Regions from separate parts of the Homo sapiens genome. Here region 1 is linked to region 2. Evidence: fine-mapped expression QTL. A gene starts in region 2. The other region holds a variant in brackets. All regions are shown on one strand. Distances are from middle to middle.

What was found. PIP is the estimated chance that this variant, and not a neighbour inherited with it, causes the effect. A credible set is the group of variants that fine-mapping cannot tell apart.
Region 1: its variant is the best candidate, but not a certain one, in a credible set for the expression of MIEN1 in whole blood (INTERVAL, PIP 0.52).

What each region holds. Positions count from the first base shown.
Region 1 is chr17:39,693,829-39,699,198 of GRCh38, forward strand. It overlaps a transcript of ERBB2 not described here. Among named protein-coding and RNA genes, the nearest start is that of ERBB2, 3.6 kb to the right of the region's middle. RefSeq lists a silencer at 2,328-2,622. The variant C/T (reference allele first, on the strand shown) is at 3,016.
Region 2 is chr17:39,727,794-39,733,163 of GRCh38, forward strand. MIEN1 (migration and invasion enhancer 1) reads right to left here and starts at 2,739. Exons shown (of 4, transcript NM_032339.5): 1 at 2,614-2,739; 2 at 2,401-2,498; 3 at 1,892-1,968; 4 at 717-1,812. The coding sequence starts at 2,702. The coding sequence ends at 1,729. It overlaps ERBB2 (erb-b2 receptor tyrosine kinase 2), which reads left to right. Exons shown (of 27, transcript NM_004448.4): 27 at 1-865. The coding sequence ends at 251. RefSeq lists a silencer at 2,421-2,980.

The DNA of each region.
Region 1 (5,370 bases), 34 kb before region 2:
CTGTAATCCCAGCACTTTGGGAGGCCAAGGTGGACAGATCACCTGAGGTCAGGAGTCTCAATTAAAAAATAAATAGGCCGGGCACAGTGGCTCATGCCCATAATCCCAGCACTTTGGGAGGCCGAGGTGGGCAGATCACCTGAGGTCAGGAGTTTGAGACCAGCCTGGCCAACACGGAGAAACGCTGCCTCTATCAAAAATACAAAAATTAGCTGGATGTGGTGGTGCATGCTATAATCCCAGTAATACCAGCTACTCGGAAGGCTGAGGCAGGAGAATCACTCGAATCCGGGACACGGAGGTTGCAGTGAGCCGACATCATGCCACTGCGCTCCAGCCTGGGTGACAGTGAGACTCTGTCTCAGAAAAAAAAAAAAAAAAAAAAAAAAAAAAAAAAAATATATATATATATATATATATATATATATATATATATATATGTGTGTATATATATATATATACACATATATATGTGTATATATATATACACACACACATATATATGTGTATATATAAAATAAAATAAATAATAATAAAACATTTACTTTGGCTGCTGTTGCTGCGGGGAGAATTGCAGGGTGTCAAAAGTAGCACTGGTGGAGGGGTAGTGATCAAAGTCTGGTGCTTTAGCCCAAAGGAGAAATGATAGAGACTCAGACTAGCTGGTGATGGAGGTAGAATAAGCATAAATGTATCAAAAAGAGGAGTTGATAGATCTTAAAGAATGATTGGATTTGAAGGGCAAAGGAAGAGAAGAATCAACCAGGTGGGTTCAGTGAATGAAACCATCAGAAACGAATTGTCCCCTGAAATCAAGACTTTGTGATTGCCATAGTTGTATGCTTCTCAAAGGTTCCTCGTCTCCTCTTCCTTGGACCAAAAGTCAGAGGCAAGAATGCCCTCATTCATACCCCAGTGGTCTATACCTCCAGCAGCAAGTCGAGTGAGCAAGTGATGTCCTGAAAGGCCCAGTGGATCAGTGGAATGAAGCGGGCAGGAAGACTTAGTGCTCCTGAAACAAGGAATCCAGAATCCAGGAGAAGGATGGCTCAGTGGGGCTTTCAAGGGACAAGTATGGGGGTTGAAGGGGTCACTGTCCCTATACCAAATCCGAAAATATTGTGACCAGGAACCATTCTGTCCAACTCTTCTATTTCAGGTGGCAAAGCAAAGCTATATTCAAGACCACATGCAAAGCTACTCCCTGAGCAAAGAGTCACAGATAAAACGGGGGCACCAGTAGAATGGCCAGGACAAACGCAGTGCAGCACAGAGACTCAGACCCTGGCAGCCATGCCTGCGCAGGCAGTGATGAGAGTGACATGTACTGTTGTGGACATGCACAAAAGTGAGGTGAGTCGCAGGACAGAAGAGTGCTTTTTGTTTCAGCAGAGCAGCCTGGGGAGAGATAAAAGCTACTCCTGGGGCCTGGGCCTGCATTCCTGAGATGTGGGTAAGAGGGGCCCAGGGTCAGAGTGTCTGGCAAGCTTGGCTCTGCCCCTTTGCTGTCCTGGAGACTAGGGCTAATCCTGGGCTCAGGGAGTGGCCTCCCCATGGTTAGGATACAAGTGCTCATCAAGGGCCACCCCTAGGAAGGACCAATTTTCCTATCAGAAGCTTCTAAGTTATCCTCCTTTGGCCCAAAGGGACACCTCAAGCCTACTCTGAGGAACTCTTTCCAATGAACTAATTCCTACAGTCACTTCCCCAGCAACCTGTGCCTCAGCCTCAAGGCACTGTGGGGTAGGCCTCAGTTTGTGGCCTGGACATCGGACTGTGGACCAGACGACTCCTCCCGATTTCTGTTTGTTTTCAGTCCTCTGACCCCAAGCTGGCTGGTGAAGTAGGTAGAGGGAGGAGACTTTGGTGCATGCATACACACACACACACACACACACACACACACACACACACACACACACACACACACGTCTCCTGTGCCCCCCAGTCTCCATGGCTGGTCAATGATTGACTGGCATTTCACAGGCCGCTGGTTGCAGCCCCAGCCTGTTGACTTAGAGGTCACCCTCGGAAGCTAGAGCCCTGTCCTGCCTCTTCAGTGTCAGTGGTCACTCCACTGCCCACAGGCTGGGGTCTTGGGCAAAACACACGCATCTGCCCTGATCTGAGTTTGCTGCCCTCTGTCCCGCAGTCAGCCCCACTCTGTTCCCACTCCCTCTCCCCAGCCCCCTAGCTAGACCCCTCTCACCAGCACCCCTTTCCCTTCCCTGAGGGTCCCCCTCGCTGTCTTTGTCCCTCAGACATCCTCTTTCCTGGGCTCTCCTGCCAGGCCCTGCTGGAGGGACAGTTAAGGAGGAAATCGAATCAGCAGCGCCCACCCCTGCCCCCCTTCCTCTCCTCTTGTCAGACACCAGACGAGGTTTTTTCCTCTGGCTTCCCAGCTCTGAATGGGCTCATTCTTTTTCAGAGGCTCGGCCCCTCTCGAGCCTCCTCCCCAGGGCGTGAGTTCTGACCCCAGCTCCTCCCCCCATCCCCACTCCAGCCCCCTCTCCAGCTTGCTCCACCCTCTCTACCGCCCACCGGGACTGGGCATTGTCTGCCAGTCCGGGTTTCTTCCTGGGATTTGGGATGCAGAGAGGATGGGTTTGCTTGGGCGGGGGGGTGGAGAGTGAAGGGGGGAAGCAGGATCTTTGTAGAGGGAGGGACCTACAGTTACCTGGACTTCTTTCCTCTGTCTCCCCTCTTGGTACCCTTGACTGGGGCTCTTGAGGGTAATGGGTGAAGCCAAATCTGCCATGGCTCAGTTCCCAGCTCAGCTCTGTGACCTTGGGAAAGTTCCTTTAGCTCGTGGAATCTCAAGGCTCAAGGTTCCTCTTCTGCAAAATGGGGAATGATAACACCTGCCTCCTCTGGAGTCTTGGGGACTCAGTGTTCTGAGGAACGTGGCTGTAGGTCAGAGTGGCACAGAGTAGGGTCCAATGAAGCATGGCGTCCACAGTAGCTTTCCTGACTGGACTAACCTTTCCGGACACAACAGCAGGGCAGGGGTGGGGC[C/T]TGGGGAGAAAGGACACCTCTAACCCTGATCCTAACATCCCGATGGCCTCTAAGGCTGCCTGCACACTCATCCAGGTGCAAGCCCTCCAAGGTGTGGTGTGATGAACCAGTGACTCCTGGAGCCAGGTCAGCGCATCCTCTTCCCGCAGGGCTGTAAGCTGCAGGACTGAGAGGCAGGTTGACCAGGTCCTGGGCTGGATGATGGGGTGAGAGTAAGGGGTCAGTTTTGATACATGCCCAACTTTTCTCTCTAGCCCTAAGACATCCTGGGCAAATTGCTTACCTCAGTTCCCCTGATCCTCACCCTAACCCTAACACCAGCTCAAGAGAAAATAGGGATATTGATGGCCATCCAGAAGGGCTGCTGTGTTCCATACACAGCAATATTTCTCGAATGTTTGTGACAGCGGTCCAAGGAATAAGTTAATTTTACATTATCACTCTGGATACCTGTACAAAACTCCACCTTATCCTTACTATATGAATGTGCTAGGGTTGTTTTTTTGTTTTGTTTTTTTTTTTTTTTTTTGAGACAGAGTTTCGCTCTTGTTGCCCAGGCTGGAGTACAATGGCGCGATCTTGGCTCACCGCAACCTCCGCTTCCCAGGTTCAAGCGATTCACCTGCCTCAGCCTTCCCGAGTAGCTGGGATTACAGGCATGCGCCACCATGCCCGGCTAATTTTGTGTTTTTAGTAGAGACAGGGTTTCTCCATGTTGGTCAGGCTGGTACCAAACTCCCGACCTCAGGTGATCCACCTGCCTTGGCCTCCCAAAGTGCTGCAATTACAGGCATGAGCCACCGCACCCAGCCGTGCTAGGGTCTTTTTCTGTTCAATTCCTTTCTCTCTCTTGCTCTCTTTCTTTCTTTCAATGGAGTCTTACTCTGTCACCCAGGCTGGAGTGCAGTGGCAAGATCTCAGCTCACTGCAACCTCTGCCCTCTGAGTTCAAGCAATTCTCCTGCCTCAGCCTCCCGAGTAGCTGGGATTACAGGTGCCTGCCACCACACCTAGTTAATTTTTGTACTTTTAGTAGAGATGGGGTTTTGTCATGTTGGCCAGGCTGGTCTCGAACTCCTGACCTCGTGATCTGCCTGTCTTGGCCTCCCAAAGTGCTGGGATTACAGGCATGAGCCGCCATACTCGGCCAACTTTGTATTACTTTCTTAAAGAGAGTTTCCCAAATTATATAAGCTTCAGGCCCCACAAAACCTAGATCTGCCCCAGTATAACTAAATCTGGGACCATTTATTGAGCAATTATTATGTGCCAAGTATTGCGCTGAGTGCTTCCAGAGCATTATCTCCTTTAACCCCAGCATAGTATGTCAGATGCTGTTTTACAGATGAGCCAACTGAGACCAGAGATGCTCAGTCACTTGCCCAAGGTGACATGACTGATATGGAATAGAGTCAAGATTTTTTTTTTTTTTTTTGACACGGAGTCTCACTCTGTCTCCCAGGCTGGAGTGCAGAGGCGCAATCTCAGCTCACTGCAAGCTCTGCCTCCCAGGTTCACGCCATTCTCCTGCCTCAGCCTCCTGAGTAGCTGGGACTACAGGCACCCGCCACCACACCTGGCTAATTTTTTGTATTTTTAGCAGAGACAGGGTTTCACCGTGTTAGCCAGGATGGTCTCGATCTCCTGACCTCGTGATCTGCCTGCCTCGGCCTCCCAAAGTGCTGGAATTACAGGTGTGAGCCACCGCGACTGGCCAGATTCAAGATTTGAACCCAGGTCCTCTTGGTCCCAGAGGCCCCTGTTTCTCAACTCCCTAGGATGGCATAGCAACCTGTCCCACAAGAGGTGCCTGCTTTAAGTGTGCTCAGCACATGGAAGCAAGTTTAGAAATGCAAGTGTATACCTGTAAAGAGGTGTGGGAGATGGGGGGGAGGGAAGAGAGAAAGAGATGCTGGTGTCCTTCATTCTCCAGTCCCTGATAGGTGCCTTTGATCCCTTCTTGACCAGTATAGCTGCATTCTTGGCTGGGGCATTCCAACTAGAACTGCCAAATTTAGCACATAAAAATAAGGAGGCCCAGTTAAATTTGAATTTCAGATAAACAATGAATAATTTGTTAGTATAAATATGTCCCATGCAATATCTTGTTGAAATTAAAAAAAAAAAAAAAAGTCTTCCTTCCATCCCCACCCCTACCACTAGGCCTAAGGAATAGGGTCAGGGGCTCCAAATAGAATGTGGTTGAGAAGTGGAATTAAGCAGGCTAATAGAAGGCAAGGGGCAAAGAAGAAACCTTGAATGCATTGGGTGCTGGGTGCCTCCTTAAATAAGCAAGAAGGGTGCATTTTGAAGAATTGAGATAGAAGTCTTTTTGGGCTGGGTGCAGTTGCTCGTG
Region 2 (5,370 bases):
TCTCCCCAGGGAAGAATGGGGTCGTCAAAGACGTTTTTGCCTTTGGGGGTGCCGTGGAGAACCCCGAGTACTTGACACCCCAGGGAGGAGCTGCCCCTCAGCCCCACCCTCCTCCTGCCTTCAGCCCAGCCTTCGACAACCTCTATTACTGGGACCAGGACCCACCAGAGCGGGGGGCTCCACCCAGCACCTTCAAAGGGACACCTACGGCAGAGAACCCAGAGTACCTGGGTCTGGACGTGCCAGTGTGAACCAGAAGGCCAAGTCCGCAGAAGCCCTGATGTGTCCTCAGGGAGCAGGGAAGGCCTGACTTCTGCTGGCATCAAGAGGTGGGAGGGCCCTCCGACCACTTCCAGGGGAACCTGCCATGCCAGGAACCTGTCCTAAGGAACCTTCCTTCCTGCTTGAGTTCCCAGATGGCTGGAAGGGGTCCAGCCTCGTTGGAAGAGGAACAGCACTGGGGAGTCTTTGTGGATTCTGAGGCCCTGCCCAATGAGACTCTAGGGTCCAGTGGATGCCACAGCCCAGCTTGGCCCTTTCCTTCCAGATCCTGGGTACTGAAAGCCTTAGGGAAGCTGGCCTGAGAGGGGAAGCGGCCCTAAGGGAGTGTCTAAGAACAAAAGCGACCCATTCAGAGACTGTCCCTGAAACCTAGTACTGCCCCCCATGAGGAAGGAACAGCAATGGTGTCAGTATCCAGGCTTTGTACAGAGTGCTTTTCTGTTTAGTTTTTACTTTTTTTGTTTTGTTTTTTTAAAGATGAAATAAAGACCCAGGGGGAGAATGGGTGTTGTATGGGGAGGCAAGTGTGGGGGGTCCTTCTCCACACCCACTTTGTCCATTTGCAAATATATTTTGGAAAACAGCTAGGCACCGGCCTATGTCTGGGGGTGGCTCTGTGCCATCCCTTCCTGCTCACCTTACACTCAATTCCTCTTTTCCTGGAGGGAGTGGCTGGGAATCTTCAGAAAGCTTGGATGAGGAGCCAGACATCCAGTTCTCCAGCTTCAGGGTTGGGGGAGATCGGGAAGCTGGATTCAGATCTGAGAGCCCTTTGACGACCAGATCATTCTTATTTAGAACGAACTAATTCCTAAGGCCACTCACCAGAATGGGGTTATTTCCTCCTTGTGAGTGAGGAGAGTGGTGGGTAGGGTGGGGGAAAGACGAGGCAGGGTCTACTGTGGGACTCATTTTCCTTGCCTTGGCTATGCCAGAGGAGCTCACTGACCTAAGGAGTAGCTGTCCAGAAAGCCCACCCAGCCAGCACAGCCACCCTGGCGGTGCAAAGGCTGGGCTGACCGGACTTCTGTGCCCCCCACATTCCCAGACTGGACGTATAAAAACACACACTAGTTAGCATTAGTGTTTGTAGCGCCACTTTACTGCCAATAGCTGACATTGCCCTGGGTTAGGGGAGAATAAATAAAATCTGTGGCATCAGACAGGTATTACCGAGGCGAAGAGTGGACTGGGCTTTCGTGGGCACTTACCCTGGGAAGGGGGTATGAGGTGGCTGGAGAAGTGTTCATGGAGAGTGTCTCTCTCCTGCCCCCAAGGCCACGGAATCTTCTATTCCTTCTTTGTACCCAAAGGGCAAAGTGGAGGCCAGGGTCTCTTTGCTAAGGAGCTAAGTAGGGGAAAGAGGCAGGGGGAGCTCCCAGCAGGACCAAAGGGAGACCAAGGTTTGGACCCCAGAACAGAGCAGGAACCCAGAGTCCTGTGCAGTCACAGGATGACGCAGGGAGGACGGCTGTTGGTGATCTTTTCTAGGGTTTCTCCATTACTGGCTCTTCGGATGGCCTCAATGAGCTAGAGGAGTGGAATGACAGGATGATGCACTGTTGGGGTAGGGTGACCAAGAGGTCCTCCCAACGCTGTAAATACTCACATCTTTCTCATAGGGAAAGCCCCCATTCTCCAGCTTGGAGAACACCAGCTGTCCATTTATCTCTATCTCAAAGGCACCTGGTAAGAAATCAACAGATAAATGGTACACTGAGAACATAGGCAGAAGTCAGGAGTTCCTCCAAAGGGGTCCCCCGCCTTCAAGTCCCCCATCAATCCCACTGGAGACCCATTTGTAGCTCCTTAAGCAATTCCCCAACCCTGGGTCAACTCCAGGGAACCTGAGGGAGGCCTCGCCTGTGTGCCCCTCGCAACACTCAATAAAGGACTCCCTCCCCTCCAACCCTACACGATTGCAGTCTAATAGGTTTTTCCCCACAGGCCTCTGTGACACCCCCTGACCTATGGAAGGGAACTCATGTTGGCCGGACATTTTACCATGTGCCAGGCACTGCGGGCACTTTACATAAAGCAGCCAATGTCAGAACTAGAAAGCGGGAGAGCTGGGATTCAGAGCACAGACTGACCCAGCAGGTGTTCTGCGAGCCTCACCTGTGCCCCCGAGGCGCGACTCGATCTCGATGCCCGGATACTGCTCCTTCACAGCACTGGCCAGCTCCAGGTAGGTCGCCTCGAAGCCGCAGGGTTCACTGGGGAGTCAAGAGATGGGGCTGGGCTGGGGATTCGGGGGTGGGGCCTCCCGTGGACCCACCTCCGTCCGGCCCGCGGGACCAGGGTGCGGGTCCTCCAGCCGGGGCCGCTCACCAGTACTCCACCACGATGCGGACCCCACTGCCCGGCTCGACCTCCTCGGGAGGGGGCGCTACGGACGTCTGCCCCGGCTCCCCGCTCATCGCGGCCGGCTCCGCTCGGGCCCCTGCTTCCGGGTGTGACGCGAACCGCGGGCACGTGACGGGGCGGGGCCTCTGGAGCGGGGAGGGGCCGAGGGTGGCGTTCGGGCGCCCCCTGCGGGTCTCCGCCACTGCTACGTTTTGACCTCGTAGGGCAGCTCCGGAGCTCGCTCCCCGGGCAGGGGCTGGGTCCGGTCCAGACCCTCCTTCCCTGGCCCGGTCTCCCGGAGTGCCGGGCTTCCCCACTCCCCACTCCCGGTGTCCGCTGGACTTCATGGCTTCATTTACTCTAATGGACTATCTTAGACTGCAAAGCGCTTTTCAGTTTACAAAAGAAAGAGAAAGTGGTGGGGCAAGCATCCTGGGGATGGGGGTGGGTGTGGCTGATGCATGAAATAGTTGACATTTTCTCGCTAACATGCCGATGGCATTTTTTTTTTTTTTTTTTTTGAGACGGAGTTTCGCTCTTGTTGCCCAGGCTGGAGTGCAATGGCGCGATCTCGGTTCACTGCAACCTCTGCCTCCCGGGTTCAAGCGATTCTTCTGCCTCAGCTTCCCGAGTAGCTGGGACTACAGGCGCGTGCCACCGCACCCGGTTAATTTTGTATTCTTAGTAGAGACAGGGTTTCATCATGTTGGTCAGGCTGGTCTCGAACTCTTGACCTCAGGTGATCCACCAGCCTCGGCCTCCTAAAGTGCTGGAATTACAGACATGAGCCACCGCGCCTGGCCCAGTTTTTTGTTTGTTTGTTTGTTTGTTTTAGTAGAGACAGGGTTTCACCATGTTCGCCAGACTGGTCTCGAACTCCTGACCTCAAATGATCTGCCTGCCTTGGCCTCCCAAAGTGCTGGGATTACAGGCGTGAGCCACCACGCCCGGTGCTGATGGCATTTGGAACCACCCTGTAGTTACATACACAAGTGTTTCTGATCCCAAAGCTCTAAACTGCTTTTTCCAGTCTTTTGCAGCTGCTTCTTGCCTGCACTGGAAAACAGTAGATGCTCTTCAGGCTCTGTGCCCCCAACAGTTTCTGCGCATCCCTTCTCATCCAGCCTCTCACTGGGGGGCTGGCGTCATTATTCCCATTTTGCAGCTCTGGAAATGGAGTCTGCACAAGTCCTCGCTGCCTTTTCCCTGCCTACAGTACCACTATGGTATCCTAACACGCCACCCACTCTAGTGTCCCTTTAGGCTATTTATTTATTTATTTATTTATTTTGAGATGGAGTCTCACTCTGTCACCCAAGCTTGAGTGCAGTGGCGCGATCTTGGCTCACTGCAACCTCCACCTCCTGGGTTCAGGCGATTCTCCTGCCTCAGTCTCCCTAGTAGCTGAGATCATAGGTGCCAGCCACCACGCCCAGCTAACTTTTGTATTACTATTATTATTATTTTTTTGAGACAGAGTCTTGCTCTGTTGGCCAGGCTGGAGTGCAATGGTGCGATCTCGGCTTACTGCAACCTCTGCCTTCCGGCCTCAAGTGAGTCTCCTGTCTCAGCCTCCTGAGCAGCTGGGATTACAGGTGCCCACCACCAAGCCAGCTAATTTTTCTATTTTTAGTACAGATGGGGTTTCACCATGTTGGCCAGGCTGGTCTCGAACTCCTGAAGTTGTGATCTGCCCATCTTGGCCTCCCAAAGTGCTGGGATTACAGGTGTGAACCACTGCACCCGGGCTCATTTTTTTTTTTTTTAAACCAGGCAGGTCGTAGTGGCTCACACCTGTAATCCCAGCGTTTTGGGAGGCCAAGGTGGGCGGATCACTTGACGCCAGGAGTTCAAGACCAGCCTGGCCAACTCGACAAAACCCTGTCTCTACTAAAAATACAAAAATTAGCTGGGTGTGGTGGCGCACCAGCTACTCCAGAGGCTGAGGCAGGAGAATCGCTTGAACCTGGGAGGTGGAGGTTGCAGTGAGCTGAGATCTCACCACTGCACTCCAGCCTGGGTGACAGAGTGAGACTGTGTTCCAAAAAAAAAAGAAAAGAAAAGAAAAGAAAGAAAATGCAGTGATTTGTACTGTTGCCTAACCATCACTACAATCCAGTTACAGAATGTTTCCGTCAACCTGATAAGTCCTTCCCACCTGTTTCTGGTCAATCCAGCTCCCAATTCCAGTCCTGTGCAACCACTGATCTGCTTTCTGTCTCTAACTTTGCCTTTTCTGGATGTTTCATATAAACAGAATAATACACTATGTGGCCTTTTGCTTCTGGTTCTTTCATTCAATATGTTTTTTGAAATGCGTTCATCCTGTAGCGTCTAGAGTAGTTTGTTCCTTTTCATTGCTGAGTCGTATTCCACTGTGTGGTTATGCCACATTTTTTTCTTAATTCACCAGCTGATGGATATTTAGGGTTCCAGTTTTTTTTGTCTTTTTTGAATAATGCTGCTACAAATGTTTAGGTGTCTTTGTATAGGTGTGTGTTTTCATTTCTCTTGGGTAGATTCCTAAGGGTAGAACTGCTGGGTCCTGTGTTTAATTTATGATTATCTTTTTTTTTTTTGAGACAGGGTCTCGCTCTGTTGCCCACGCTGGAATGCAGCAGTGCAAACATGGCTCACTGCAGCCTCGACCTGCTAAACTCAAGCTATCCTCTTGCCTCAGCCTCCTGAATAGCTGGGACGACAGACACGCACCACCATGCCCAGCTAATTTTTTTTTGTATT